3 linked regions of the Homo sapiens genome follow. The protein of the gene in region 3 interacts with the protein of the main gene of each other region in a pairwise test. Each region holds a gene or a part of one and is shown on either strand. Other genes may lie near its edges.

Region 1 (10,620 bases), on a different chromosome or scaffold from region 3:
CACAGAACAAGAAGGAGCTCTGGAAAATTAAAATGTCAGAGCCGAAATTAAATATTCAACAGAAGGTGTGGCAGAGATGCTGCTGTATTCCACTCATCTAATTCACCCTTAACTGTAGGATGCACACTTTATAAACTACCCAGAAAAAACAAAATGTCATCAACTGAACTAAGATACATCCATAAAAGGATGTATGCAGCTTCTTCTACAGTATTACAGCTCTGATTTTATTCAGAACAGCAACTTACCCAACTAAAAAAGTACCTTTCCCGGGTTCCTTACGGCAAGATGCAGCCACACAACTAATTATGGGGCTTCCCAGCAGGCCCCTTACAGGGAGCTAAACTGGCTTCTTTTGATGGTTGGAAGATGGCTACAGTGGCTGGAACTCCAGCAGTCATGACCCTGAGTACAGAAGTCATACACTGAGGACAGCAGATAGAGAGAAGCCAGGTCCCTCATGATGTCAGGAGCACTGGGCCAGCACTGGACAGTCTTTACCTCCAGACTTCCTTGATGTGAAAGAAAAACTATTTATGCCACTGTTTCTTTGGGGTTTGTGTGATATGCACTTGGACACAACCTTAACTAATTCAGAAAAGAGTCAGAATACAAAATTAAGGAAATCGCTAAGAAAACAGACCAAGATTGAAAATAAATGGTAAAAATCGTAGAGGATAAGTCCAAGAAAATAAAGAAATGGTAAACATCATAGAGGGTTCCAACATCATAACAGAGATTCCTGGAAAAGAAAACAGAAAACAGAGGGAAATAAATTATCAAAGAAATAATACGAGTACATTTCCTAAAACTGAAAGACTCATCTCACAGTTAAAAGTGCCTACCAAGTACCTGGCTCAAGACGGGGAAGTAAAACAACACATATCCCAAAGCTCACCAATGTGAAACTGGCCATTAGGGAGAAAGAAGAAACATTACAACTTCCAGAGGAAAAAAAAAAGTTACATAATAAAGGATAGGGAATTAGAATGCTATCAGACTATTTATGTCAGAAGATAATGACAAATGCACTAAAGAATGATCCTCGAAAATCATTTCTAGGCCAGGCACGATAGCTCATACCTGTAATCCCAGCAATTTGGAAGGCCGAGGCAGGAGGATCACTTGAGACCAGGAGTTCAAGACCAGCCTGGCCAACACTGAAAAATCCCATCTCTCTTAAAAATACAAAAATTAGCCAGGCCTGGTGGCACACGACTGTAATCCCAGCTACCTGCAAGGGTGAGGCATGAGAATTGCTTGAACCTGGGAGGTGGAGGTTGCAATAAGCCAAGATTGCGCCACTGCACTCCAGCCTAGGCAACAGAGCGAAACTCCATCTCGAAACAAGACCCTGTCTCAAAAAAAAAAAAGTCATCATTTTCTAGGGAAAATGATGTATGATCTAGATTCTTTATCCAGACTACCAATACCAATCAGTCAAGTATAAGGATATAATAAAAATAATGACATTTCAAAGAAGCAAGGTCATTTATGTACCATGCATCTTTTCTTAGAAGGTACTAGAGGATGTGTTCCCACAAAATGAAGGGGTTATACCAATAAAGAGAGAAATGCAAGAGCTAGGAAATTGTATCAATATAGGGGAGGCTCAGGATGACAACTGTAGGGCAAGCCTAGAGAATAACATGCTCAGGCCGGGCGCAGTGGCTCACACCTGTAATCCCAGCACTGGGAGGCTGAGGTGGGCAGATCGCCTGAGGTCAGGAGTTCAAGACCAGGCTGGCCAACACGGTGAAACCTTGTCTCTACAAAAAGACAAAAATTAGCCAGCCATGATGGTGGGTGCCTGTAATCCCAGCTACTCGGGAGGCTGAGGCAGGGGAATTGCTTGAACCAGGGAGGTACAGGTTGTAGTGAGCCGAGATCGCGCCACTACACTCTAGCCTGGGCGACAGAGTAAGACTCTGTCTCAAAAAAAAAAAAAAAGAATAACACGTTCAAACTGGAGCAGAACAGAGGCAGCCAGGAGAAAGATCTCCAGAAGAAAGGAGAAATTGATAAATTATCTAACAGTTTTGAATATTTGGGGGAAAAAAATTTTAATTTTATATGGTGGTTCTGATGGAGCAATTTGTAAAATTTTAAGAATAGGCTTATTAAAAAATATGCAAGAGCCATTTATTTGCAGGAAAAAAAAGTTGTACAAGAGGTAAAAATGTAATCATAATACCCTTCTTGACTCTTTGTACTTTTGTTTTGTTTTTTGTTTTTTTGTTTTGAGGCAGGGTCTTGCTCTGTCACCCGGCTGGAATGCAATGGTGCGATTTTGGCTCACTGCAACCTCTGCCTCCCAGGCTCAAGCAATCCTCCTACTTCAGCCTCCTGAGTAGCTGAGACCACAGGCACACACCACCACACCCAGCTACTTTTTGTATAGATGGGGTTTCATCATGTTGCCCAGGCTGGTCTTGAACTCAAGTAATCTGCCCACGTTGGGCTCCCAAAGTGCTGGGATCACAGGGATGAACCACCACACCCAGCCCGTTCTTGGCTCTTTGGTGTTCAATCTACATTGTCAAAAAATGTGAACATTACTTTGGGAGGCTGAGGCGGGCAGATCACGAGGTCAGGAGATCGAGACCATCCTGGCTAACACGGTGAAACCCCGTCTCTACTAAAAAAATACAAAAAATTAGCCAGGCGTGGTGGCGGGTGCCTGTAGTCCCAGCTACTCGGGAGGCTGAGGCAGGAGAATGGCGTGAACCCGGGAGGCGGAGCTTGCAGTGAGCCAAGATCACGCCACTGCACCTCTAGCCTGGGTGGCAGAGCGAGACTCAAAAAAAAAAAGTGAACATTTTATGACTTTTACTAAATTAAATAACTTATTGGATATTATTACATTGGGATGATGAGGGGGAAAAGTGATGTAACACAGCTAATTTTTTCTACCATAATGAAATGAAAATATAATGTCTTAATCCTGACATCGAGATACAGCAATATAAGCATATTACTTAGAACTAAAGAGATAAAGCCCAAAATAAACAGCTGAAATTTGCAGTGACTACCTTTGGGGATTGGGATTTGGGTGTGGGGAGGAGTAGGACAAGAATATGATGCTTTTCACTTTTTTTTTTTTTTTTGAGACAGTCTCGCTCTGTTGCCCAGGCTGGAATGCAGTGGCCGCCATCTCTGCTCACTGCAACCTCCGCCTCCCACGTTCAAGCGATTACTCCTGCCTCAGCCTCTTGAGTAGCTGGGATTACAGGCGTGTGCCACCACGCCTGTCTAATTTTTTTTTTTTTTTTTAAGTAGAGATAGGGTTTCACCATGTTAGTCAAGCTGTTCTTGAACTCCTGGCCTTGTGATCTGCCCGCCTCAGCCTCCCAAAGTGCTGGGATTACAGGCATGAGCCACCGCAACTGGCCCTTCATTCTCTTTCGTTAAATAAGGCTCCTGGTATTAATTAACATTTTAACCATGAACATGCATTGATTTAAAAAGAAGACCAAGTAAAATAAAATACTACTTATTTTTCATTCCAGAACAGGTTAAAACTCAAACTTTAGTATGATCAAGACCTTCCAGAACCTAACTCACTCTCCCAGTTGTCTCCTCTTATTCCCTCTTTACCTACGGCTTCAACTTCACTCCAGAGCCCACTTCCTTCTGCCTTTACTACTCATGCACTCCCAGGCCGCAACAGCCTTTCCCATCTCTGCCAATAGATGTGCCCATCCCTCAGGCCAGGGTCCAACTTCCATTCCGCTGGCAGAGCGCAAATGCTAAGTGTCTTAAAGGTCAGGGGCCCTAGGTCTCAGTTCCAACACTTGCCCCTTCTGGAGACAGCCTGCCCCCATGTTCAGCTGTGGATGAGAGCCAGGCTGGGAGCTGCTCACCGGGAGCCGGCAAGCCATCTGAACGTCTATATAAACTTCGGTGTGAATATGCCTCTTTCTAGGAAAAGTAAAGCTTTGAGATTATGAAAGTGGTCTGGCAGTAAATAAAGGGTAAGAATCTCTGCACAAGAGGCATTGAAAAGAGCGTGAGGAGAGCTGAAGGGGAGTGGGGAAGAGGGATGCGGGCAGAGCCACCCAAGCCTCAGTCCGTGTCCTGAGAATACTGGAGGCCTCAGTCACAGAGCCTGATTTCCTGCCCTTCCTCACCGCTGGCTTCATTAGCACTTACTTGTCTGACTCTCTCCTCGCACCCCTTTTCTGCACACACTGGGCCCCCAGGAAGCTAAGCTCCCAGAGCAGCTACTGTACCTCCCGGCCTCAGACAAGACGTTTCAATGGAGGAGGTTCCACCCACAAAATACCTGCCCGGGGTGAGGTGGGAGGGCAGCAGAGGCCAAGTCTACAGGCTGAGCTATCTGAGAAGCTGGGTGGGTGTTTCTTGTGGGGTGGCCTCGCCCTGGGGCAGAGTCAGCTGGGTGACCCATCCAACACTTCCCTCCCCTTCTCCAAGCTCTGTTCAGCCCAACATGCCTTGGACGCGAGCACCGAAGGACCAGCTCCAGGCCCGGAAACCCATGCAGGACTTGTCATTCAAAGACCTGGGTGACAAGGGCGCTCCTAGTCATGTCTTCACTTATCCCCGCAGGGTCCCGTTTGTCTTTTTCTGGAACTACACCTCCTCACCTCCTGAGGGCTCCACTGTTAGCCCGGCTTAGCTGCCATCCCCACCCGTGAGACAAGGCCTCGTTCGACTAGGCCAGCTCTCTGGGATCACCGCCCCGCTCCTCGGCTCAGCTCCAACCATCCCATAGCCATGCTGGGCTTACTCTCCCCTTCTCACTGGTGCCACCTCCCCAAGTTTCTACTGTGACAAGGGCACACTCTGGGCACTCTCGCCCCGTTCTCACTACCACGGACACGCTGGTGGCAGGAAAGAAGGGGTTATCACAGGCTTACCCAGAACTTCACAAGAAAAAAGGCATTGGAGGGTCCCCGTTCGAAGAGATCCTTGAGTCCACCCTTTTTCTCCGGGAATTTGTCATAGATTTGGCGGATGTCCACGGCTTCGAGGTAGGGGTCGCTGTAGCTTGGGCTGGACTGGCCAATGTGCACGAACAGGTGCTTGTTGTACTGTGGAGAGAGTGGGTCTGAGGGAGACGGAGCACAGGCCAGACGGTCAGACAGACAACCCTGGCTCTGCGTGCCCACCACGTGACCTGGTGCAAGCCGCTTGGCCTTTCTGGGCCATAGTTTCCCCATGAGTAAAATAGAGATGGTAAAAGTCTACTCCTTTTGTTTTACATCCTGGACTTCTAAGTAAAGGTCTATTTGGTTCATGGGTTCCTCAGCTAAAAAGAAGTCTGAGCCGGGTGCGGCGGCTCACACCGGTAATCCCAGCACTTTGGGAGGCCGAAGTGGGTGGATCACTTGAGGTCAGGAGTTCAAGACCAGCCTGGACAACATGGTGAAACCCAGTCTCTACTAAAAATACAAAAATTAGCCAGGTGTGGTGGCAGGCACCTGTAATCCCAGCTACTCCGGAGGCTAAGGCGGGAGAGTCGCTTGAACTCAGGAAGTGGAAGTTGCAGTAAGCTGAGATCATGCCACTGCACTCCCAGCCTGGGTGACAGAGTGAGGCTCTGTCTCAAGAAAAAAAAAAAAAAAAAGAAGTTTGAAGATGTCAGAGTGAGAAGGGCCCTGGCATCCTGTCACCTTGGCCTCCTCCAGGTCCCCCTCTGACCTTTGCAGGTGACGCTGGTCACCCAGGACACTGGACACCGAAGGGGACAGGCTGGTATCCCATAGGATATGGAGCAGACACAGGAGACTCCTCAGCTTCCTGCCCGCTTCTCAGAACCAGAGAGAGGCTGGGACAGTGTAGGGGTGGGGCTGGGACCAGAGCAACCTTGGACTAAGGGTCGGTTGGGTTAGGAGGGGAGGAGGAACACAGGACAGGGAGGGAGGAGCGTGACGCTGACTGGGCGCTGGGACACGGAAAGGAAGCCAGGGAGGAGGGAAAGAGGGAAGAGGGGTGACGTGAAGGAGGAAAGGAGGAGTGGGGGGAAGGGCAGAAGGGAAGATCGGAAAGGAACAGGGAACTTGAATTAAGCCCCAGCATGGAGTGGGGCAAGACTGCCGGAAGCAGAAACAGAGGGAGAGGGGGTGACCAGGGAGCTGGACAGGCAGAGGCCAGGACCTACCGTGTCCGGGTCCTGCTGCTGCTCCAGGAAGGCAGAGAACTCCAACATCCAGAGCTTGGAGCTGGCCACGCTGCGGCCCTGCCATGGGGGTGCCGGGGGCGCAGAGGGCGATGGGGCGGGCCCTGCAGGAGACTCAAACCCTGCACAAAGTGAGAAAGGCACATGGAACCTGGTCACGGACACCCGCCCTGCCCGCACCCTCTGCAAGGACCCCAGGCCTCCTCGGACAGACCCGTGCTGCCTGGGGGGACCGCCTGTCTCCCTAAATGGACCTCCTAGCAGAGGTGGTGGAGGGAGTGCCAGGCTTGGGCCAGGGCATCCTGGAGCTGCCCTGGTGGGGAGGGGCTCGCCTGGTACAACTCGGGCCACTCAGCACTCTGCATGGAACCGCCGAGCAAGACTGGATTCTGGAGGGCAGCTGGGGCCCTGCAGGACCGAGAGGCTTCCAGAACAGGCACTGTTAAGTTCCTGCCCTCAAGCAACTTCTGTTCCAGTCGGGGAAATAACCAGATGAATCCACTATTACAATATGGCATCATCCCGGAGAGACGGGGACGTTTCCTGTTTGCATCACATGTGTCTCCCCCGCTCCCAGAACAGGGCCTGGCCCAGAAGAGCCCCTCAATCCAGCGTTGCTAACAGATGAACCTACTCCAGTCCTACTGTAGTTTAGATCGTGTCCTGAAGGCACCAGGGGGCCAGGAAGGCACCATAAACCTGGAAGCAACACCGTGAGACTGAAGCTCTGGTGAGTGACAGGGTGACGAGAGGAGGTGAGACGGGACAGCGAGCCGGTGGAGAGGCTGCTGCAGGAACGCAGGCAAAAGCCAGCAGGCCTGGAGTGAAGACATGGTCAGTGTGGACAGAAGACTGGCATGAGACAGAGGGTGGACGGGACCTGACGCTGTGACTTTGTTTTGATGTGTGAACGAGAGAAAGCAGCCTTCAGGACCTGGGGGACAGAAGGCAGCAGGGCTGCTCTTGGTGGCAGGGAAAGCCAAGGGGCCGGGCAGGCAGACTCCACACCAGAAAGGGCAGTTTAAGAGTGAGGAGCTGGTCTTGTCCTACAGAGTGGGAGGTGGTGAGGGCCCCTCCTGAGAAAGAGACGAGGACAGAGCAGAGCCTGTCAGTGAGAGGGCGGGGTGGGGGCTCCTGTCAGCACCGCTGGCTGCCTCCACCAGGTCTTCTCCCACAAGGGTCCCTCTTCTCGGGAGGGGCTCCAGGCTGGTGAGCTAGACACCCCTCGGCCCTCCCAGGACCAGGTGTGTGAGGCACACTGCAGTAACAAGGCCGGCCAAGTGGGGCAGCCGCCAGGGCACGGGCACTGCCCTTGGAACTGCACGTGCCCCACAAGCCCTGAGCACAGCTTTGAGGGGACAGGAGCAAGGCAACCCGAGGGGCATGAAGGGGCTTGGCACACGGCTGAGGTGTGCATGCTGGGGGAAAGGAATGGGGTGTGGCCAGGGACTAGGACGTGTGGTCAGTGTGCATGACGGGGCAGCATCTAACAGGGACACGCAGGCGTTCGGCTGCCGGGGGCCTGGACCCAGAGGCAGGAGCCACATGGCTGCGATAGAAAGGGGGCCACGCAGCGCCCACCCACCTGGCAGAGGCAGCGGAGGCTGGACAGCATAGGTTTGCTGAGAGAAAGGCTTCACACTGCGGGAGAGAGAGGAGGGGAGGTGTCAGCCTCGGGCAGGCCACCGCCCCGGATCCCTGCACTGGGTCCAGTGGTCTGTGTGGTAGGTCCTGGTGGTCTGGATTTCAGTGGTCCCGATGGGCCTTGGCCTCCTACTCCCGCCCCTGCCGACTCCCCTGGGTTTCGTGGCGGGTCCACAGACACAGCGTGTCTGCTGAAGAAATCCACCCCTCCCTCTCCTCCTCCCAGGCCAGCCAGAGGTCTGCTTCCCAGCCTCCTCCCCTGGGGGACCCCAGCTCTGGCCCTGCCTATACCCTGGACAGACTGGAGTTTTGGCAAATACCACCCTAGGGTGTAGACATCACAGATGAGCCCAGTGATGGCTGACAGTAGAAGAGCCCAATCCCTGAGCTCAGAGCCATCCTGAAAGGCCGACCCCAGCAGCGGCCCCAGCACACCCTGGGGCCCAGGCTTAATGCCATGAGTTTATGGGTTCAAGTTCAGTTCAGGGAGCAACTGGCAAGAGAAACCAGAGGCCATACTCACTCATGGGACGTTCCGGCTTGGCCTGGCAAAGCTCCTTGCCAAAACTGAGGAGGCAAAAGGCATGGAATCAGCACGGCCCCAGGTGCACCCGGGGCCCTGTGGTGTGGGGGTGGGGGTAGGACCGGGCAGGGCCTCCACTGGGAGGAGAGGCTGGAGCCCGAGGCCTCGCCTAGCTAGTGAATGCTAACAGGCCACAGCAGCACCCCCAGAGTGAGTTTCAGGGGGCTCTCAGGCCCTGTGGAGGAGGGGCTCCATGGGAAAAGCACCCAGGTGTGGTCCACACAGCACAGGGCAACTCCTGCAGAGTCACAGTGCAGACCTAAGGCTCAGAAAAGTCCCAGTGCCAAGAACCCACTTAATGCCAAGGGTCCCAAACTTACTCACAGAACCACTGTGTCCTATCTGTTTAACATGCAGATGGACTAGTGCTCTCTGGGACGCACTTTGAAAAATGCTGTGGCCTGGCACTGCCCCTTCCCCACGTGCCTAGGGCGGTGCTGCAGGTGCCTTGAAGACTCATTTAGTCCCTGGAGCCAAGAAAGCCCCTGTGAGGAGACAGCTCTGAAAAGGGGCCTTTCTGGATCATTCTGAGAGTGTGGCCAACATGGTCATGGCTGGGAAAGTTAAAATCTGACCAGGGGTTTGTTTTTGGGGCACCAGCTCTCCACCTGGCAGGAGGGCAGGAATGAGGCTGCGTGGCACGAGCTGCCCAGGTACATGCTGGTCTCAGGCTTCCGCTCAGCCCCCTTGGCTTCAGCTTCCTCATCTGTAAATTAGGCCAACATGGCAGAGCTACCAGGTGGTCAGCTCCTGGAAGCTCCCCCTTCCCCCTTGTGAAGTCTGTGGAGTCATTGCCGAGGACCCCAAGAAAGCCGTCCCAATACCAGCCAAGCCGGGATGTGTGTGGCCCTTGGGTCCTTGTTCCCTCCTTCCCTGACTGCCCTGGCCAAGAGGACTCAGGTGAGAGAAATCTGGGCTGGCCAATGCTTCTGGCTCTTCTGAACAGGGAGGAGGGAGGAGGAGAGGGCTGGCCTGGCCTCCAGCTCTCGGCAGCCCACTTACCCCTGAGACTGCTGGGCGGCCGGGGCCCCGGGCGAGGGCCATGCTACTGTGGAAGGCCGTGGCGGAGATGATCTGTGCAGACGACATGGCAGCCATGCTCTGCAGGGCCTTGTCCTTAGCTGCCTGGTCCTGGGGGAGACATTGCAAGGGAGGACCTCAGCAGGGTCACTAGTCAGGCTGAGGCCAGGCAGGTCCGGCCCTCGGGTCAGGGAAGCTGTCTCGCTGCCAGTGGCCAGAGCTGGGGGACCAGGCGTTAAGTCTGTGCCGTGCTATTAACTTGTTTTGCAACTGAGAAAGTCAGCTGGTTTCTCTGGTCAGTTTTCTCATCTGTCAAAGGGGCATGATACTTGCCCTGCTTCTTTCATCAGAGCTTACAGAGACATTATCTGTCATTTTATTAATTACGGGGCCACCTTCTATGCCTTGCTCACCTCTCTACCACAGGTGCCTAGCTCAGCACCTGTCTTGTGAAAACGATGCATGAATATCTGCTGGATCCCTCCTCGAGTGCACAGGAAGCATCATCCCTGGCCACACGGGCTGTCTGGAGGCAAGAGACCACCTCCTGTGGCCCCTCCTGCCTCAGTCCTGCCCTAAGGATCTCCCTGGGCACTGTAGGCACCTGGGACTCACCCATCTTTCATGTGTCAGAGTGTAAATACCCACTGTCTGCCCTCCAAAGGTTCCAAGACCCCAGAGGATGGGTTCACCCTGAATAGGCCCGGAACAAATAAGCACACAGGGAAAGCCACTTGGATGGCACGGGTAACAATAGTAATCGTTTGTTATATTCATATAAGCCAGTGGTTTCCATCCTGAGTGCCCGAATTCCAAAGGTCTTCAAAACCAATGACACAACATTCCCTATTTCAAGAAGCCTAATGGAAACTGTGTCTTTTTCTTCTTCTTTTTTTTTTTTTTTCCAGAGACAGGGTCTCACTCTGTCGCACAGGCTAGAGTACTGCACAATCATGGCTCACTACAGCCTCAAACTCCTGGGCTCAAATGATCCACCCATCTCAGCCTCCTGAGTAGCTGGGACCACGGGCATGCGTTACTGTACCCAGCAGGGATTATCCAAAATAAGACCACACACACACGGGCTGGAACAGCAAGTATTATTCACTGTCTGCAGCTTTATCGGGGCTAAATGGCTCGACTGAGTCAACTCAGGGGCTCTGATTAGAAATTTGATACCTGGCCGGAAGTGGTGGTTCATGCCTGTAATCCCAGCTCCTGGAGAGGCTGA
Region 2 (10,620 bases), on a different chromosome or scaffold from region 3:
TAGCCAGCGCAAAAATTTAGTTTTCAGTTTAACACCAGGAATCTGCTTAGCTAGGAGCTGGCTTAGAAGGCACATCAGGAGAGAACATCTTCTACTGAAAGTTGAAGATTTTTCATTTTCTAGCTGAATTATGACAAAGGGAGATGACCATTAAGTGCCTGCCAGCATACTGGGACGTACACCTAACACTCTGAAAACTCAATTCATGCCAGCACATCTGTCTTCTGCTGCATCTAGCTCAGCATCATGTATGTATTTTGGGCAAAACTAATCATTTCACACCCTAGACTTTAAAGAGACCCAGAATCTAATGATAGCTAACATACCCACCCCCTCTAACAGGCTTTGGCGTATTTCCTGTGAGAAGCAGTTACTGGAGGCCGAATGGATTCCACTCATCCACAGCACTGTGCATGCAACAGCCAGATTAGGCCCCGGTGGGACTGCGTGGCCCACTGCTTCCTATGGGCTCCAGGGCTGCCCAGCAGGGATGACCCGGGAGCCGACAAGGGGGAGGCCAGTGGGGGCGTTGGGACGGTTTCCTTGACCCTGTCTCAACCCAGAGAAAGAAGCCTGCAGGTGAAAAAGGTCTTCGTGAAAGGAATGAAAAAGGAGAGGGCTTTAGGGGAAGGGGCTGCCTGGTGGCAAAGCCAGCGCCTTGTGTCCCCAGGCAAACATGACAGAGTCTCGACGCACAGGAAGAGCCAGTCCGTCTTTACTGGAGTGAGTGCGGGAGACAAACAGTTTACAACAACCTTTAGCATTGTCTTCACCATTTGATAAAAAGTTCACTATTATATTTATTGTATAATGAAGAAAAACAACACATTCAGGGAAAAATTGAGATTAACTTATTTTTCTTAAAAGGTTCATCTCAAGGATGGCAACAAAGTCCAGCTTGTGCCGCCAAACGGTTTTACATGATCAAACCGTGTACAGCTTCTTGTGTGAACTGTTGACTACAAACATTTACCAAATACATAAATCTCTTTTAAAAAAGCCATTTTAAATATAGCAAAGCAGTGTCTTCTTGCACAGCAAAGTGAAGAAAGTTTCTACAGAGAAATAGAAGTTTTACATTTGTAAAATCTTTTTCACATTCTAATCATCTAGCTTAAGATCCAATGCCAGGAGTTTTCAGCTTCCTTATTTACTATGTATTTCTTGTGCGCATGATGGTTAATACAGAAATTATGTTGATGCATTACTAGTTATCCTTCTAGTTAAAGGAAAGGGTAAAACATGTATTGTTCTTGTAGAACAAACCCCTGATTTAGTCTATAACAAAATGGACATAATTGGGCTCAAAAGATGGAGTTTTGATTGGGACCACCTGTGTACACACAACAGTGACTTCCACTCGCGGTGGAGTGGCCATTAGAGTACTGAGGAAGGACAGCTGTTGGAAACTGTACTTTAACCAGTGCAATTTAAGCTTTTTTTGCTTTTGTTCTTTAGTAATAAAATACTTCTGGAGGGATAAAATTTTCTTGCAATGGTGTCTCATACAAAACACGAGTCTAAAAGGGTAAGAAAAGACGGTTCTAAAGCAACACCATTAGCGTCGTCCCCTCTCTAGGCTGGTTTCCACCCAGAGATGTGGATGTGGGTGTGTTCACACGTGGGCGTCTGGGTGAGAGATGTCTGTCAAGTCCATATGCTCCATGCCACACTGGACGTATGGGAAAAAGGTTAACAGTCAAATATTCAGTTCCTGAAATGGAATACATTGTTACTTGGTCAGTGTAATTTAAATACAAACTCCGAGCCTTGAGTAGTAGTATTTTAGAAAACAGTAGTTGTACTGATTATAAACCTGCATAGAAAGAAAGACTATTGAGATACAGTCAGAAAAGCCATCTCATAAGGCACACAAGAAAATAGACAGTAAATGTGAATGTGTTAACTCCTATTCCAATGTACAGCAGAAGTTCATGAACATGCATAAATAATAACGAAGGAATCACTTAACACTTTCAAAGCTATAAATGGTTTACAAAGTGGTAAGGATTATTTTGGAACTTCAGTGTTGGGAGACTGTCTTGTTTGGATTAGGTGTGGCCTTATGAAGAAATGTGCCTGTAAGTAGTTCAGTAAAGTAAGTACATTTTTAAAGAAAAATCCTTTCTGAATAAGAGCCTAATGTCTATACTGAAGAGAGGAGACAGCATGTCATCCTCCTTTTTTTGGCCTCTCTCAAAAGTTACTGCCCAAACTGCCATGAGAACAGAACCTCCAGTTTGCAGCCTGTGGTGCGCAGGTCTCTCCTGCACTGATCATACCTATGTGTCAGTCAGGAAATCTGGCTGATGACTTGTCACAAACAGCAGATGAGGAAAATGTCAAAAGGAACGTAATTTGGGGGGGGGGTGGGGGGGGGGGAACAAAATGTACATAGAAATTGTAGGTAGCTGCTCAATATCATTTAAAATATAAAATAGCAATTTTTAAACCCTTGAGTTTTTTAGGAAAAGGAGTATTTAAAAATCTACAATGAAAGATATACAGGACTTTGAATTTTGCTCATGGCACAAGCCCAGTAAGTGGATGAACTTGCTATCATCCATTAGTTGTCTTCCTGAAAGAATAAGGCCTTGTTCAAAATCCAAGCTGAGGGTGGCACTAATTCCAATTAGAATGGCAAGAGTCATGCCAAGGACCAGCACCCTAAGAGTGTTTCTCCCCGCATACCAAAGCATCACTGCAATGTGCAGAAGAGCTGATAACGGTAGGATTTTGTAACCAGCTGCATCGTTCTGTTTTCAGAGGGTCAAGGAAAAAAGATCCCTTTCCCCATGATTATTTTCCCCTAATCATTTACCACTTATAAAACCTTTGTGCTCATCTACTATTTTGCCATTTTCTCTAATATTAATTAAATTAGGTCAGCTTTTTCTACTACATTTTTTCCTCACAAAAGGCAAGTTTTAAATAATGCCTTACAAAATCTGTTACAACACATTTTATACTTATGCAGGATGAACTTAACACCAATTTTTTTTGCCACTTTGCTATTTATGTACACATACAAAATATATAATGATGCTCAACCCATACAGCACAAAGATTACAATGTAACATCACACATTCACCACCAGTGAGGGGAGAAACCCCTTTATACAATCCTCTGAAAAAACTGGGCTAATAATTAAAATCCAAAGTACAGTATATTTAACAAAATAGTAAATATTAAACAGTGAATACTTAATAAAGGACCTCGCCTTTTCCCCCCAGATTGGCGGCAATCCACAAAAATATACTTTTTAATCTGGTGACCATACAATACATAGGTACTTACATCAAAGGTGATAATATATTTAAGATGCTATATACACAAAGAGTTTGGCTCAACTTTTAATTTACATTTAGAATAAGTGTTCATGGCTTTTTTTTTCCAAGGTTCTGCTTGCAAGATATTTTTGTTTTCCCCTCTTAAAATAAAACTAAAGAGTTAAACCAAGATAAAGCTATTCTCTAAAAAAAAGTTACAACATATAGCTTTGGCTTATATAAATAATTCATAGCAGAATGTGTTCAAAAGTAGTGAATATAATTTTATATATAGTCATCAATTCATAAGGGTGTTTTCTTTCATATAAAATATACATGAGCTAAAATCAGTTTCTTTAATTTTTAAGATATGAATGTAAAAAGAAACTTCTGACATATTCCAATTATAACTTAATATATTAATTTTACTTTGTTAATGCTCTATATTTCTAGGCTAGTATTTTCTGAATATCTCATGCGTGTTTTCTATTCTCTTTCTTTATTAGCTAAAGATCACTTCTTGACCCAATACATTTTTGCACGTGCAAAACAGTTATGTGTGGGGCTTTTTTGTTTTGTTTGTTTTTAATATCAACAGCCCTTTCCCATGCACCCCTTTGCAACAGACACCCATGCCAGGTTGGAAAATATAAATGACATTTTATGTACAGTATTGCTTTCTTGGTTCCTGCTTTTCTACTGCTCTGTTCTACAAAGCATTTTCTCTTAAGTAACTACAGTCACTGCACAGTTAAATAAAACAAGTAGGGGGCCCTCTAGGTTTCTGCAAGCTAGTGTGGGAGAATTATATATGGGTACACGTTTCTCTGCAAAAACTGGTTATCTTTACGAAACAAGTAGTCCAAGGAAGTGCCAGACTTGTCTGTGCCTACAGGGTGCTTTGTCTGCCATGGGACACACATCTGCAGACCTACAAGGAGTTTGCAGGTAAGTGCCTGATTCTGTGTATGTAACACACACCCACACATACACACTCACACCCACATACATATATATGTAAAGGGATATATATATGTATGTACATATAAATATATTTAACTCATGTCCTTATTTACCGATTTAGATATGTAGGGCAGGTCACTGCAGTAACACAAAAGTACAAACATCAGCTTGGAAGCCTTAGGTCACCCACGCGTCCATCCTCATTCGCTTTACAGAAGGGCTTTCTCTGTCCTCAGTGTTTGGGGGTCGGCCAAGCACAATTGGAGAATGGAAGTCGCCCCGTGGATCCTCCCGATCACTGCCATCATAGGAGCTACTAGAGCTGCTCAGACTGTCCACAGGGGAGCGCCCCATTTCCTGTCGGGGCTGGGGCTGCGGGGGTTGTGGCTGGGGCTGCGGTGGTGGCGGCGGCTGCTGCTGCTGCTGCTGCTGCTGCTGCTGCTGGAAGCCCGATGGGGTCATACGATCCCGAGGAGGTGAAATCGGTTCGGACTTGATGCTGATGTTTTGGTTGGTATTAATGGATAAATTGGAACCCTGAGATAACTGCCCTCCAGCACTGAAGGAAAAAAAAGAGAGAGGTCAGATGGCTTGCAAGTACCTCTGCAAAACTGGGATGATACAGTAGAGACACTGCCTGATGGAAAAGGGCCCAGAGTCTGAAATCTTATCAGAGTTCCCCAAGACTGGTTTGGGTCGTTTCCTTCAGTGCTTGGCACAAAAGGAAATCCCATCTTCCTAGGAGGAAAGAAAACAGTACCGTTGAGCCCTTACGTTACTTGGTTCTGTTACCCACAACGTTGGTACTTTTGCAGCTAAAGTATACAAAACAATGTCAGTGTCTTAATGCTGTGCAGGGACCAGAAAGACAGAGGAACAGCAGCCTCATCTGCTCACCGCCTCTTCTTCCTCAGCATCTGCTCCCCATCTGCTCTGGCCCTGTGACAGGGCACAACATCGCTCATCCTCGCAACACCTCTAAGGTGCAAGTCGCACCATCCCCATTTTCCAGATGAGGAAATGAGGGGCTGGCTGAGAGCAGTAGAGGAGGACGCAAACAGGCTGTTCCCCGGGCCTGGGCTCTGAGCCCTTTCCACTTGCTTTTCCAGGACTATTTTTAGTGCATTCATTTAGGATGCTCAGGACAGGCCTGAGGGCCAAATCCTGTGTAGGCAAATTTCCCTGAGATACTCTGCTGCTTTTTCCATGACATAATTCCTAAGAAGACCACTGACAACAATCCTCACTGTGCAGTTACTTCAGAATGGATGAGGGAAAGGGACTGCTGAGCTCAGGCTCTCTGGGGACTTCCTGGGCAGAGGCTAGGGGCCTGGGGTATTCCTACTGCCCAGAGCACAGGCAAGGCAGCCAGTCTTCATGGAGGCCAGCTGGGTCTGCTATGTTGTCCCCTCTCTTGGGACACTCTCCTCCAACTGCTCCATGGGTCTGCTGTCATCCTGGTTCCACAAAAGCCCTGTTCTTTCTCCCGGCTGTCAGGGATGTCTGGCCTCATCTGGGCGCCACTGTAAATCCTCTTTGCTTATATCCTTACACCCTGCCCATACGGAACATTCTCTTTGTGAATGAGGTTTGGTGTGTGCATTGGGCTGGGATCAGTCACACAAATCCTATGGAGCCTGACTGATATATAAGACACCCTGTCCCCAGTTTTCCTTCCCTGTGGCCCAGGGAGAAAGCAAAAGCTCCAGCTTGTCTTCCTATTCTTGTCTACAGATACTCACCAAAGCAGTCAATGGCAAGGGTGGCAGGGAGGCCTGAATGCCTACAGGCTGCCTTTCAAGCAGTGCAGCCAGAGGCAGGTGCTTGGGAGCAGGGGTGCAGTAGGCAGCTTCATCACTGGTCAGAGGGCAGAAGGATGGTGCATGCGGGTGGTATCTGTGCCTTCAGACCCCTTCAGATCCTGGTTGAGTCTCTCTACCTCAGGATGTCCCTATGGGAGAAGCCTTGCTCCCCAAATCCCTTCAAGGAATGCCTAGTTTGTCAGTATCCAAGCTACTGTCTAGAGCCATGTAAGAAAATATTTTCTCCCGACACTTGTATCTACCTGAAAAGGAATCATTACAGGATTCCTCACACGAAACTCAACAGAGCAAAAGGCTGTCACTGATAGGAAAAGAGAGTGTGTAGGCCAGGAGTAAAGATGCAGGGAAAACTTCTAGTTACTCACACAAGAGAGCTGAGGGCTGCTTGTCCTAGGTGGTGCTGCTGCCAGGCCGACACCTGTCCCAGCGACAGCATTCCTGGCGAGTTGAAGCCTTGAAGGGCTGACAGGTCAGCGCTGGTCAGTGAATAATCTACAAAGGAAGACAAGAGGGCTCTGCATATGATGGAAGGTCCATACGGAATCTATTTTTTACGTAGCTACTGCAAAAGTTCCTACATTGAGGCCAGCCATGCTGGCTCATGCCAGTAATCCCAGCACTTTGGGAGGCCAAGATGGGCGGATCACTTGAGGTCAGGAGTTTGAGACCAGCCTGGACAACATGGTGAAACCCCGTATCTGCTAAAAATACAAAAATTATCCAGGCGTGGTGGCGCATGCCTGTAGTCCCAGCTACTTGGGAGGCTGAGGCAGGAGAACTGCTTGAACCCGGGAGGCAGAGGCTGCAGTGAGCCGAGGTAGCACCACTGCACTCCATCCAGCCTGGGCAACAGACTTCCTCTCAAAAAAAAATAAAATAAAAAGTTCCTACATTGAGAGAAGCCAGATACTTCACAACAAAACAACATACATGTGGGTCTAAAATCCGCAAAATCTTTTCTTGGAAGATTTACAGGATCTAGCAATATTTCTTTGTCTGGGATGATTCAAATAAGAGGCCATCATTAAAGAGTGTTCTGTACAATTGTTACTTTAAATATGCCTGCCACTACCCTTTGGAACAAAGAGAAACACTCAACCTCAACCAGAGTGAGTTTGAATCAGCAAGTCTTAATGAAGCAAGGGGTTGGGGGACAGGGAATAGGGGACAGGAAAGACAGAATCCCTACATGGGGTGCCAAGCTCAGTGACATCATTACACAATTAGTAAGCGCATTTGTTTAAAGTACCTAGACTGTCGCAAACTCCCTGACAGCATGCAAGAGTTTCAACTTCATGAAAAAACTCGGTGTCCTAGAGTATACCCAGCTCATATCATATGAATGCTTCAGTCGTAATCACTGGGACCAAGATTTAGGACGTTAGTTATCACTCACACGGGGAGTTATTTCAGCTCATCATTAACACTTGTCTTTCTCACTTGGTTCCAAAGAGAGGTGGCAAAACTCTTCTACTTTTATCTTCTTTCTCATGTCTCAAGAGAGGTGTTTAAAGAAATTGGTCTTCCTAGTGAATTAACATTTTAAAAAAGGAACGGAGTTGAAGCGACACAGCTGGTGCTCAGGGCTGTCCTGACTCTGCCCTTGTCATTCTATACACTCCCATGGGCTGGGGCAAGGACCCGTCACACTGACGCCTTCCCCAGTGCTCCCTCCGGCCCACAGTCTCCTTCGACCTCTAGATCTTTTAAACGACCTAGTGCCATGTCCATTTGGACGCCACTCCAAACGCCACACATCTGACATGGCCCATCCTTTCCTGCAAACCTGTTCCTCCTTAAGTACTCTTAGTACATGGCACCAACATGCACCCAGCAGCTCGTGCAGAAGCCCATGGGTGTTATCCTTGCTACTTCCCTTCCCTCTCACTCCCAACATCAATTTCCAGGTCTGAGCAATTCTATCTGCTCTCTCTCAAGCCTGCCCAGGTCTCACCATCTCTACTGCCACCTCTCTAGTCTATGCTATCAGCACCCATTGCTTGGACCACTACAGTAGCCTCTGATGTGGCTTCCTGGCATTGCCTTTTAACCCTATATACAGCAAAGACATCTTTTTAAAATAACAAATATGGTCATGGCACTCCTCTACTTCAAAAGTTTTTTATGGCTCCCCAATGCTCTCCGGACAGTTTCCAAAATCCTTGACATAGTCTACAAATCATTACTTACCTCTCTAGTCTCAATTCTAACCACCCACGCTCTGTCCCCATTCCTTCAGCCCCGTCCCGCCCGCAAACTCCTAGCCTTTGTACAGGCACACCCTCTCCCAAGAGCACTCTGCCTCCTCTGCCTGGCTGAGTCACGCATGTTCCTTCCTGTCCGAGCTGAGACACAGCCCTTGACACAACTGCAGCAGCTTATCCCTAGAGCTGTGTGTCTTGTGCCTTCCCCCCAGGCTTCACTGCTGACTGCACTCCTGCATTTCCAGTGCCTGGCACAGTGCCTGCCACACAGCAGCTGCCTGATAAATATTTGCTGAATAGATGTGGAAATAAGTTAAAAACAACATGGTAAACTTCAAACAGAGTAAGTGTTACGAGAAAGAGAAGAAAGATAAAGTCGGTCAAAAGGTGGCATGAGACTGACGCTAAGCGACTGATGATTTTGAGAGCCTGCCTCCATTTTTATATGCTTTGGTAATTTCTTTTATACTTTTAAAAAATAAATTCCCAATTCAATGGCATTTCTAAAAATAAGTATAGTGGAATTTCTAAGTATACTGAAAAACCTGTAATGAAACGGTCAGTAAACCATAATCTGACACCCAGTTCAAGCTCCCTCTTCTCAGCCAATACACCTTTGAACAGTATAGCTTTGCCCTCCCTTCTCAATTCTCAGAGTATAAATTCACAATCACAACAATTCAGGACTTCCCCTCCACGGTTACCCACTTAGGTATGTCCTGCCTCCTCACTTGGAATAAACTTGGAGAAAGCTATGTCCCTAGTACAGTCTCTCACAGAGCAGGTGATCAATGCGTCGAAACAGAATTTCTATGAATGCTTCATCCCTGGCTTTACTCTGGAACCTTGTTCTGTGCAAGGCACTAATAACAGGCTATGATTCACAATCCCTAAGATAGTATGCAGTTGACAAATTTGGGCATTATTTTTCATACTAACGGTTGGAAAAGTAATGGATATTTCCTAAGAGACTTTTTTTTTTTCAATAAAACCTTTTATTGTTGATTCTGTTTTAAAAGAACTTCTTAGAATTCAAGTGGCAATCAAATGTTATCAACGCTCTGTCCCCTCACGTAGCTGCGGACAGCAGTTTCAAAGTTCTGTGCCAAAGCATTTACCCTGAAGGCTAAAATCAGACCATCTTTACCACAGTCTACTTATGACACTCAGGAGAATCATAATAACTTCTCTGCATTGCAGTCTCTGAGTAATGGGCAAGGGAGAATTGAACTACTGCCGTCTTCCTCTGAAGCATCAGGTGTTTGGCTCAGCTGATGAGAAAGCGAAACCACATGTGTTTTCCACTCCTTCTTAGATTGGTAAATTTAAATGAAACCAGCTGCCCTCGATTCTCCATACAGTCTGCTTGGCTAAAAGCACTCCTACGATCACTGTAATATTCTTAAACTTTCCTAATACAACCCCAAATTAGGGCATTTTAAGATGAAATGCCTAAATAAACATAAATGAAGGAAAAGCTCCCCTCAAAGGCAGAGTGACTGGCTCCGAGGAGAAATCAGAACAGCCCTTGTTTTGCCCCTCAGGTGCACATGACATGGACCAAGCTAGTGGTTACAGGGAGGAAAACAGCCTGTTCGACACAGCCAAACGTCGGCCACCTCCTGAAGTCTCAGGTCCAAAGGGATTCATGTCTTTCCCAAAGCAGGTTAACACAGCATAAAGACAAACATCTTATTTTAAAAGCCTGGAAAAGCGTGATACTGTATGAAGAGAAACTACATCAGCAATACTCAAGCAACAGGCTGCTCCCCTCTTGGCTTGATGCATGTCACCATTTTGCTATCATCCACGTGGCTTTGTGTCAGGGGTTAAGTGAAAGTTCACACTGGAGAAGCCGGAATAACTTACTCATCGCACTATCCACACTATCCATTTTGTTTGTAATTTTTTCAAGGCTAGCACATTGAAAAATACATCCTAATTTAAATCTAAAAAACTGGAAATAGTTTATTTCAATAAATATACTTAAAAAAAATCACAGAAGCACACGTTGATCACAAAACAGAGAGCGGTAAAACCTACGGAAGGCACCAGAGCAGGCTCACCAGTGTTGTAGGCAGTCGGCATTGCTGAGTACACAAGTCCTTGCGGAGGCAAGCTTGGGGTTGTCACAGACACGACTGGGGTAGCAAGAGGTTGAGTGGCTTGAGAACTACTGATCCTCTGGGTATTCTGTGAGATCAAAAAAGAGAAAATGTGTTCTGATGTGGTATTTATGTTGACTTAAAAATCACTTTCAATTTAAGTGACATTTTTCACAGTTTCATATGAATGTCATTTTCTGAAGCACTGATGATGTGAAAACTTCAAAAATACTAGTGAGAATAACTAAATATTTA
Region 3 (10,620 bases):
TGGCAGGAAGAGTGTTTTCTGTTGTAACCACACACACATCCGGGACTCTTCTCTTTCTCATTCAGCAGGAGCAGTTTCCATTTTTTCTCCAATAATACACGGGACATTTCTCTTGAAAAAGAAAACAGTTACAAAAACTTGGGAGGGTGATTCACTTGTATTTTTTTAATCTAAAAACTTCAGGCCTGTTTCCTAATCAGTTGAAAACTCACCCTTTCAAGAGTATTTTTCCCCTTCAAGGAAAAAAAACAACAACAACCCTCATTCACGTTGTTTTTTAAAACTCTATGGATGAGGATCTCATATTTAACGTTTTTTAAAAAGAGTATTTGTTTTTCTTTACTCCTACTAGTTCCTGCTATGAGAATTTTCGTGAATTTCTTTCTTTGCATCTGATGTGTTAAGTAACATCTTGCTTCTGAACTCACTTAAAAAAGGCAGCCGACTTTAGAAAGCCGTAAGCAGCCATTGCTGGGCTTGTTTCCCGTGACATTCACACATTGTAGTCAGGGTTTTGTTTTTCTTGTTTTTTTTTTTTTTAACCATCCCCGCTTCCCCCAACAAGAAAGAAAAACTTCTGAGGCAATTTCTGTTGTATTGTCTTTGCCAACAAGTAATACGATATTTTAAAAACAAAACATAATGGCCTAAGAGAGAAATATAAGATTGTTAGGAAATTGATACCAGATTAGTTTTTCCTGTCTCCGATTGGTGAGGACCAACTTACGGACAGCGAGCCCAGGTCGAGTTGTTGTGTAGCATGCAACACCCAGGAAACTAGAGTGCTCTGCTCTGCTCTTCTCTCTCGGTATTTGGGAGGAAGAAACTTTGATTTTGAAGATTGAGTAGCTATATGGGATAATGGGCTGAAGTCTGTTTGGTTTAAACATCTGCTCCTATTTTCCTTATTATGAGAGTTAACATTATTTTAACACCAGAATAAATACAGAGGAAATGAAGGAAAGCACAGCAAAATTTGAGTGGTGTTTATAGTGAATTGTTGATGTCCTAGTGGTTTTCTCAGTGTAAACACTGCACACATCTGGTCTGAACTCCAGAGGGTGTTTTGAAGATGGGCATAAATCACACACGGGATTTTTTTGTAGGAAAAGTTGGAAAGGTTATGGTTCTTTAAAATCCAACACTTGGACTTGGAGAATATTCGTTTTAAACATATCAGCTCCCCAGCATTCCAGGGAAGTTGTTTGGAAAATGGAATGTACTGTTGGTAGGCAACATTTGATTTCATTTAGGGCACAGTCAAGTTTCATGCCCCTTAAGAATAAGGGACAAATTAATTTTATGACATTTTAGTTTTAAAAATTAAGATGCGGATGGTTAATTATTCTTACCAGCTAAATTATACCATATTCCTTAGTTGTATGAGACATAGCTCTACTCTAAAATAAACCATGTGTCTGGTCTTTTTTTTTTTTTTTTTTTTGGTGATGAAGTCTCGCTCTTGTCCCCCAGGCTGGAGTGCAATGGCGCGATCTTGGCTCACTGCAACCTCTGCCTCCCGGGTTCAAGCCATTCTCCTGCCACAGCCTCCTGAGTAGCTGGGATTACAGGTGCCTGCCACCATGCCCGGCCCATTTTTGTATTTTTAATAGAGATGGGTTTCACCATGTTGGGCAGGCTGGTTTCAAACTCCTGACCTCAGGTGATCCACCCACCTCAGCCTCCCAAAGTGCTGGGATTACAGGCATGAGCCACCGCACTCAGCCTGTACTGTCTTTCTTAAACCTCTCTTGTGACTTAATACGCAAATCGATCTTTTTAGCCGTTTACCTTGTAGCATACAAGGTCTTCCTTCCTGACTGACTCCATATTGCTTAGATGTGGACTCCCTCCTTGGTAACTGCTTCCTGGCTCCTGCCCTCCACCATAGTTGTCTGCAAGAATAACTGAAAAGAATAAAGGGAAAAAGTTAACCACAATTAGCAGGTTTGGGGTGGGAGAAGGAGACGTTAGGGAGAGGGCCGGAAGAATCGAAGTCTGGCTGACTTCTGGAAGCTAACTAATTCCCTTCACTAATGATGAGCGGATTAGTAGAACTGGGCTTGTGCTATGTGTTCAGAACCTCATGGCTTATTACTACCGTACTCAGCAATTAACCACTGCGTCCATCACCCCACTGAATGCTCAGATGATACCCACTTGAAGCCCAGTTTTGCCTCTGTCTCCATGCAAAGGTCATAGGCCAACCCCAGCCCTCATTTTTTCCCTCCTCTGAACACCTGAGAATACCTTACTAGACTGGCGAAAGCCTCGTGAAGGCAGAGCATTCTGTCTTGGTGACCGCTGCATCCCTGAATCCTAGCACAGGGTCTGAGTGGGCTTTCAGGAAGTGGTTTAGAATGAAGGCTGACTCAAAAAAAAATCAGTGCAAGCTCTCAATGGCAGCTGTAGTTGCTCCTGTATAATTTAATACTTGATTATATACTGCCTTGTATTCTCTATCTAATTATTGCAGAGCTATCCAGGGCCTCAGACATCATCTAATACCTTTGCCTTGTTTTCACCAAGGAAAGTGAGGCTCAGAGAGGGAAACTCTGTTTTTCAGAGAGTTGATTTAGTTTATTTAGAAAGTTTGTGGCAGGATTGAATTGAGTTTTGACTCTTCTATGAATCTTCTATGCCGTGCTGCCTCTCCAGAATTATTTCATGTCTTTTTTTTTTCTTTTGAGACGGAGTCTTGCTCTGTCGCCCAGACTAGAGTGCAGTGGCGCCATCTCCACTCACTGCAACCTCTGCCTCCCGGGTTCAAGTGATTTTCCTGCCTCAGCCTCACTAGTAGCTGGGATTACAGTAGGTGCCCTGCACCATGACCAGCTAATTTTTGTATTTTTGGTAGAGGTAGGGTTTCACCATGTTGGCCAGGCTGGTCTCAAACTCCTGATCTCAGGTAATCCGCCCGCCTTGGCCTTCCAAAGTGCTGGGATTACAGGTGTGAGCCACCGCGCCGGGCTTATTTCATGTCTTATCTCCTCATTAGCTCCGTGATGTTAGGGTCATGCCCCGTCCTGGGTGCCCTCACGGCCTAGCACGGGGATAACACCCTGGATTACAGCACACAGTGGAGCCTCTCCCACTTCTCCTTGCTCTGAAGCCAGTTGCTGGTCCAAATTCCGAGGCTGTTGTGATGTTGGGGAAAGGGTAGGTGAGACACCTCTGAGTGACCGGCCTCGCTGGAAGGTGCTCTTCGTGCTGCTCTGGCACTGGGCTTGCTTTCCTTTTGTCTGCCTGTGCAGAGGAGGAGGCCTGCGTGGATGCCAGCTCCAGAGCCAGTCCCCAGGGAGCAGGGACAGGGACAGGTTAGACCACGGGCTTTCCTCAAGATCGCTGTCGCTGCACTGACATCATCCCTGGGGCTGAGACCTGGGTCTGAGCCCTGGCTGGCTGGGGCTTTACACTGCTGGTAGCGATACTTTAATTATGGGTTAAGAGCCATTAGTGTGTAATTTGGTGGAAGAATTCTCTCCTTTTAATTTAATAGCGTGATTTATATTGGGAGAAAGTAGGAATACATTGCATAGTGTGATCCTCTCAAAGCTTAAGAGCGAATTATTCCGACTTCAAGCTTTAGAACGGTTCATTGTTTTAGGCACAGTTATCCCTTGTTTCATCACGGGCAACTTTTAAATTAATTTTCTGGAATGGAAGGGAAGACGCACACTGGAGAGTTGCTGAGTTCAGTGAGACCCTGTGATCTTTTGTTTTCCACCAGTCTAACCACCAGCGGTTGAGTGGAGTCCTGGCTTCATTGTTCTTTGTCTAATGAGCTCAGAACCTTCAGGAAACTTAGGAGGCTTGGGTAGGTGAAAAGGCCACAGCGCAGGGCCATTTCGTACCCTCTCCTGGTCCCCAGCCCTGCATATCAAGTGACGAGCTCTTGATCTGGGATGTATTCCGAGGTAGAACATCTGTAACTGTTTTGCTGTGGAAAGTCATTTTACTTTAGCTTTTTACTTGCAGGAAAGGATAGGGAGTGGGGGCCAGTGGGGGTTAGGGAGGAAGGGGGAGACAGAGAGAGAGAGAAAGAAACTAGGAGGAGCTTGGTTAGTAAAACATGCCCAGGTGAGCCCAGGAGCTCTGCGAGAGAGCTGGCCTGGCTGGTGTCTTTCTCCTAATTACAGTTTGTGAAGGAAGGTGTGATTATACCCTTCCTTCCAGCTCCCACCCTTGTTTCTCAGCCCGCTTCTCGAAAGATTATTGTACTTGGCTGTTTATCTCTTGGAGCCTACACTTGGCTCCTTCTGGAGGCCAGGTTTGTCTTCCTCCCTCCTTCCTCCGTTCCCTATTGTCTGCGTGGCCTTGTATTCCTAGGGTGCCTGGATGTGTTGCTGTGAAGATTTTTTAAAACATGCGGTAAAGATAGAAAGCAATCCTCCTTGGCACGTGAGGAGATTCCAAACTTCTCAATATAGCTTAGTTCTCCCTGACTGTGAGGATGTTGCAGAAAACTGGATTTTTTCAGGAAGAAATTAGATCCAGATTTAGCACTTACGCATGTACACAAATATATAAAAACAGTCGGACCAGGGAATGTTTCTGGCGATCTTTGTCATCTCAAAGTATCTGACGTTTATTCAGTGGCGGTTTCTATTTAGTGGTATTTATTATTGCACATTGAAGCTCATGGCAACTGTTTTTTAAGACTTGCTCTGCATTGTATTCCAAAACAGTTTTCTCTCCGTCTTTTATTTTTTAATGAACTCATGTGTCATTTCCCACCCCCCAACTCCACAACAAAATCCTAACCGTGGTTGCTTATTTTTAAAAGCAGGACCTGAAAATGATTTTGCTTTCTTCATTTGCTCTCCTTTCCTTTCTGAATGTTACATGTTCTGTAAGTTCGAAGGAATTATTTTTGTCACTTTGCTTTGCTGTCTTGCCTTTTCTGCATTGTTGTTTAATTCTGTTGATTGTTTTAATTTCAAGGTATTATGTATAGAATGTTTTAATCCTATCAATGTGAATCATGACTAGTTGAAAGAATGTTTATTTACTCTAAATGAAATAGAGAATCTATTCTTAAAAGTCCTCTTTAATGTGTTGCTATGCATAGGATCGTTCCAAACTCTTAATATTTCACTCTTTTGTTTGCAAAGAAGTCTGTAAACATGACAAACTGAAATATATCTAGTAAGTGATTAGAGAAAACTTAGTACTAGTACCATTTTGTTATCCATTCTGTTATTAAACATTTATGGAATGCCTATACTCTACTAAGAAATGTATTAGGGATCGATCTCTCAACATGTTTTATAATGAAATATACATACAGAAAAGTGTATAAAAATGTGTATTTTATGGTTAGAGAAATGAACAACCCGGTGACTATGGCCAGGTCAAGAAATAGTAAATCGCCCCTTCCAGGTATTATCTTTTGATCAGATCCCTCCCAGCCCCAAGAGTTCACCACAGTTGTAACTTGCTTTTCTTTATACCTTTACTACCATGTGTCTAATTCTAAACAAATTCTAGCTTTTTTTTTTTTTTTACCCTGTATAGGGAGATGCCTGTATGCCTTCTTTTGTATCTTTTTTGTGAGATCTTTTAAAGTAGTGCACACATCCTGAGAGGTTGTTTTCTCCATGTGAAGCCAGCGTCTCTTTGAGTGTGAGAACTCTTGGCTGTGGGATATACAGACATTATATACAGATAATATATGTCCCAGCTTCCCTTCTCATTCATCTGTAGCTCCACTGTTTATTAAACAGAGTTGGTGATACTTTGGGAAGAACTTTTTTTTCAGTTAGTATTTTGTTCACATTCTTCATCACCTGTTGAAGCCCTCCCACCATCCTTGGTGTAATGGAAAACTAGGAGAAAATTCTGCACAGTTTTGGAGAATGCAACATGGGGGACACTTCCGGAGATACATAGCTTACTTAGGGCCTGAACAGCGACTTTCCTGCTGCATTAATAAACAATTTGCTTAAAGGCTGAGATGTGTTACAAGTCAACTTTGTTGCTGTGCCAGGTTTCTTTGGATCTTAATCCAGGGACTTTTGGATACATAGAAAAAGCTTAAATTGCTCCAGTATCCAAACAATACCCTATATTGTATAGAGATGGCTGTTAGAGAGCAGCACGTTTCTAAAACAATACTCTGCATTATGCACCATCTAAAATTGTGAATGAAAAAGAATTACTCATGTATTGCTCTTGATTTTTATTTTATATCTGTTTTGCATGAAAATAGTTTCCTGTTAATTCTTCTTGGCTAATGATTTGATTTTAATAGAGTGAATTCCAGACTCTAATGGTTTGATGCAGATGTACTCTGCCAAGCAATTTAGCAAAGATGTTTACACTACCCATAATCCAGCTGGGAGACTCTACACTTCTTCCCTGATAACAGTTAAGGGAGTGATGAGTGCAAGTTTCTGGACATTTTCCCCTTAGAAAATAAATGCATCTTCCATTATATGGCAGTACTATTAACGCGACAAGAGATTAATTTAAAATTCTATTTTAATGTCAGCAGTTTTTTTCTTTACCCATGTTCTTCCATTCTTAACTACGCAAGTCCTTTTAAACTATTGTTTTTCTGATGAGCCACTGATAAACTATTGGCTGACCCCAGAAAGAACCTTTGTTTTATTTTCCTGCTGAAAAGTTATGACCTCTTCTCTAATGCTTAAAATCACCCACGAGAATGATCTGGTTCGCTGTTTAAGGAATATGTAATAGCAGCTGTGCCAGGCTTTAAGTTCTACCGACTAGAAAGTAAAGGGAATGGAAAATAGCTGTCATTCTCAGTATAAACCTTATGTGCAGTTTTCTAGCACAGCTCTGCTGAATTCAAAATTCGGAGCAGTTAACACCAGTTTCTGGAGACCAGGCTGGGAGGCTTTTTTCTATTAGAGGCTTCATACCAATAAAAGAGGGCTGATACTGGTAGGGAACAAGGTAAAGTTCCAGAACTCACAGTGGACATCAAGCATTGCGCTCTTGGTGTTTGATACAGTGCATACAGTATTTGGTTCTATATTTTGTCCAATAAAGAGAGAGTGAGTGGGAGAGGACCTTCTTGTGGAGCTGGAAGAATCTGCTCTATATCTTAGAGAAAATAAAAGAACCACATGTTGCTTCCCTGCCTGCAAGCTCTTCTGAATTCATCACCATTCATGTTCCTTCCTTCAGGGGAAATGAAGGCAGATTGTTCTGTTGGTGCTCACAGATCTCTTTCTGTTCTGATACCCTCCTCTTCCTCTCCTGCTTCTTTCCCTTCATCATGTGCTCCTATACAAGTCTCTCCCAACTTTAAAACAAAAACAAACCCTTCCCTAAATCTTGTGTTTGTTCCAGCCATTAGACTGTATCGTCCTTGCCATCCACGTTATTGGAAGAAGGCCAGCTCACCTCTACTCCCTTTCTGCCCTTTCCCTCTTAATCTGCTGTCCTCTGATTTCTGCTCCCACAACTCTGTTGAATTTGTTCCAGACACGGTCACTAAATGATATCCTAGTGGCAAGTTCAGTCTTTTTTAGTCTTTACCTTAGTCTCTTTATGCCATGCAATACTGACTTTTTACAAATTCTTAAAATTCTTGCCTCCCTTTGCTCAAATACTGAGTCCTGGCCAGGGGCGGTTGCTCACGCCTGTAATCCCAGCACTTTGGGAGACTGAGGCAGGCAGATTGCTTGAGCTCAGGAGTTTGAGACCTGCCTGGCCAATGTGGTGAAACGCCGCCTCTACTAAAAATATAAAAATTAGCCAGGCATGCTGGTGCGCGATCCCAGATACTCGGGAGGGTGAGGCAGGAGAATCACTTGAACCTGGGAGGCGGCGGTTGCAGTGAGCCAATATCATCCCACCGCACTCTGGCCTGGGCAACAGAGTGAGACTCGGTCTCAAAAGAAAAAAAAAAAACCTGAGTCCTCATTCCTTCAGAAATAAGGTGCTGGTGCACATATGGTGAGCAACACCAGTGAAGAGGGGCTTGATGGAGCTCCTCGGGGTGAGTAGGCGGGCATAAAAGGGTGACGCAGGCTGATGAGCACTAAAAACAAACTTTTGTCACAGTTTGAGAATGGACTGGAAGGGAATAAGAGATGAAATAGTAATAGGAGAGGATGTGAACCTGGTGCACTGGCTTAGGCAAGAGATAGGGGTAAGGCAAATTCTGACGGTGGCCACAGAGGAAAGCAGTGGATAGACGTATGAGATCCTTAGGGGAGGAGCCTGGCAGGGATTGGTGATGGATTGAACAGCGGATGAGGGAGAGGACGTAGGAGACACTAAGGGTGCCTCCCAGGTTTCCAGCTCCTACAAGCGGATGGGTGGTGCTGCCATCTGCAGAGACAGGAAACACAGGAAGAGGACTAGGTTCTGGGGTGAGCTCATAGGCTTAGCTTCGGCTGCGTTGAGTTTAAAGGCTCTGAGATTTCGAAGAAGAGATAAATAATAGAAAGTTGGGTATATGGTTCTAGAGCTCAGGAGAGGCTGCTGCTGGAGATACTTGGATAGAGAATACTTGAAGCTTTGAGTGAGCGTGGTCACCTGGGGCAAAGGGTGGAATAGGTTGAAGAGGTCCTGGGAACTCCTCTCTTACGAGGTCTCCATTAATTTTCCTGTTAATTGCTAAAATAATCTCTAAACTGCTCCCTGCCTCTAATCTCATCTTCTTCTAGGTTTACATCTGTAATATTACCAGAATATCATTCCGGCTTACCTCTTCAGCCTTACTTTCCATGTTCGCTCACACCCTGCAGTCCACATAACGTGAAACTGCTTCCTGTGAGTAAGCCCTTTTGCCTCTATCTGAAATCTCCCTGTTCCTTTCTCGTGGCTCCTATTAGTCCCTCAAGGGCAAGGGCTTCTTCTGGAAAGTGACCCTCCTCTCCTCTGCCTTCTTTTCTTCATCTTTTTTTTGTTTTTTTGAGACGGTGTCTTGCTCTGTCGCCAGGCTGGAGTGCAGTGGTGCGATCTCGGCTCACTGCAACCTCCGCCTTCCAGGTTCAAGCGATTCTTCTGCCTCAGCCTCCTGAGTAGCTGGGACTACAGGTGCGTGCCACCACACCCAGCTAATTTTTTTGTATTTTTAGTAGAGACGGGGTTTCACAGTGTTGGCCAGGATGGTCTTGATCTCTTGACCTCGTGATCTTGCCCGCCTTGGCCTCCCAAAGTGCTGGGATTACAGGTGTGAGCCACCGCTCCTGGCCCTCCTCTGCCTTCTTGGAGGGATTAGGTGTTTGTATTTTCATGGCATGCTGTGCATACTTCTGCCATGGAATTTATCTCGCTGTGTTACCTCCCTCCTCTGTCTGGCTTACTCTAATTTCTGGGAGGGCTAGGATTTTGTCTTGCAGCTACTCGTTCTTCACACCAGGCAAGTGTTGTCTCCTTATGAATGACTCCAGTGTCTTTTGACTAAAGATAAGCATTGAAATTGCCTGACTAGCCCAAGGATACTCAGCGAGTTGGTGATACAAGTGAGTTTCTTAATTCTTAGAATACTGTTCTTAGAGGCAGGAAAGATAGCTGGGAAAAGGAGGAATATTAATAAGAGGGGAAGAGAGAGAAGAAAAACTCTTTAGGACTTAGCTTCTGTAGGAAAACATTTGAAGTTGGCTGCTTGATTACAGATAGCTGCCCTTGTTCGTCTTGCTTTCTAGTTACTTGACTTTGGACAGTCTGCTAAACGAACTGATCACTGATGGGAAAATATTTAATACCCATTATGTGCCAGGAACTGTTTTATGTGCTGGGGATATGGCTGCTAGCAAAACAGACAGCAAGATCCCTGACTTTATGGAGTGTATGTTCTAGCAGGGGAGACAGATGAGCAACAGGGAAATAAAGAAGATAATTACAGGTTATGAAGAGTCTTATGCCAGGTTGATGTCTGTTAGCTGATTTACTGTTCAGAGTGACTATATCCAAACATGAAAAGGAACTGCTTTTATTTTCAAACTTCAGAATATGAATTTGAGAGGATGATTTATTTTCCCCATGGTCTTCTGAAGGATTTTAAAGTACATTAAGGAAACTTGCAGAAAATTTCTTTGGAATCTTAGGAGTGTGGGATTTTTTTCCTTGATCTGTTAACTATGGCCAGAGTCAGACTGCCTCACTCCATTGTATCTGTCACTATACTGGGAACTAGCATTTATTGAAGCATTATTAGCCTTTTTTAAAAAGAAAGATGAAATGGTTCGTCTTGGGTCTTAATAGGAATGAAATATATGTAGAACTTTTAAATTCAGTGAATTTTATTTTATTTTTTTTTTATTTTTGAGACAGAGTGTTGCTCTGTCACCCAGGCTGGAGTGCAGTGGCACGATCTCAGCTCATTGCAACCTCTGCCTCCTGGGTTCAAGCCATTCTCCCGCCTCAGCCTCCCAAGTAGCTGGGACTACAGGTGCGTGCCATTACACACGGCTAATTTTTGTATTTTTAGTAAGGCAGGGTTTTACTGTGTTGTCTGGGCTGGAATTGAACTCCTGACCTCAGGCGATCTGCCTGCCCAAAGTGCTGGGATGACAGGTGTGAGCCACTGCGCACGGCCAAGTTCAGTGAATTTTAAAAGGCTTAAGAAATTGATGGATTAGTTGTATGTTCTGAAAATACTGTGGTCAGACCTAACGCTGCCTTGAATAGGACAGA

Evidence for each region.
Region 1: the proteins of VGLL4 (region 3) and TEAD4 interact in binary tests that used the Homo sapiens proteins (3 or more experiments, as listed by UniProt).
Region 2: the proteins of VGLL4 (region 3) and MEF2A interact in a two-hybrid assay, tested with the Homo sapiens proteins (one study listed by BioGRID).

The regions. Positions count from the first base shown.
Region 1 is NC_000012.12:3,016,278-3,026,897, reverse strand, and holds part of TEAD4 (transcriptional enhancer factor TEF-3), read right to left. Parts: intron 9,501-10,620; coding exon 9,372-9,500; intron 8,354-9,371; coding exon 8,310-8,353; intron 7,784-8,309; coding exon 7,728-7,783; intron 6,265-7,727; coding exon 6,125-6,264; intron 5,055-6,124; coding exon 4,881-5,054; intron 1-4,880. UniProt on the Homo sapiens protein: Transcription factor which plays a key role in the Hippo signaling pathway, a pathway involved in organ size control and tumor suppression by restricting proliferation and promoting apoptosis.
Region 2 is NC_000015.10:99,706,562-99,717,181, reverse strand, and holds the end of MEF2A (myocyte-specific enhancer factor 2A), read right to left. Parts: intron 10,454-10,620; coding exon 10,327-10,453; intron 6,549-10,326; coding exon 6,422-6,548; intron 4,793-6,421; coding exon 4,411-4,792; 3' UTR 694-4,410; downstream 1-693. UniProt on the Homo sapiens protein: Transcriptional activator which binds specifically to the MEF2 element, 5'-YTA[AT](4)TAR-3', found in numerous muscle-specific genes. Also involved in the activation of numerous growth factor- and stress-induced genes.
Region 3 is NC_000003.12:11,631,943-11,642,562, reverse strand, and holds part of VGLL4 (transcription cofactor vestigial-like protein 4), read left to right. Parts: intron 1-9,141; exon of another isoform or gene 9,142-9,446; intron 9,447-10,620. UniProt on the Homo sapiens protein: May act as a specific coactivator for the mammalian TEFs.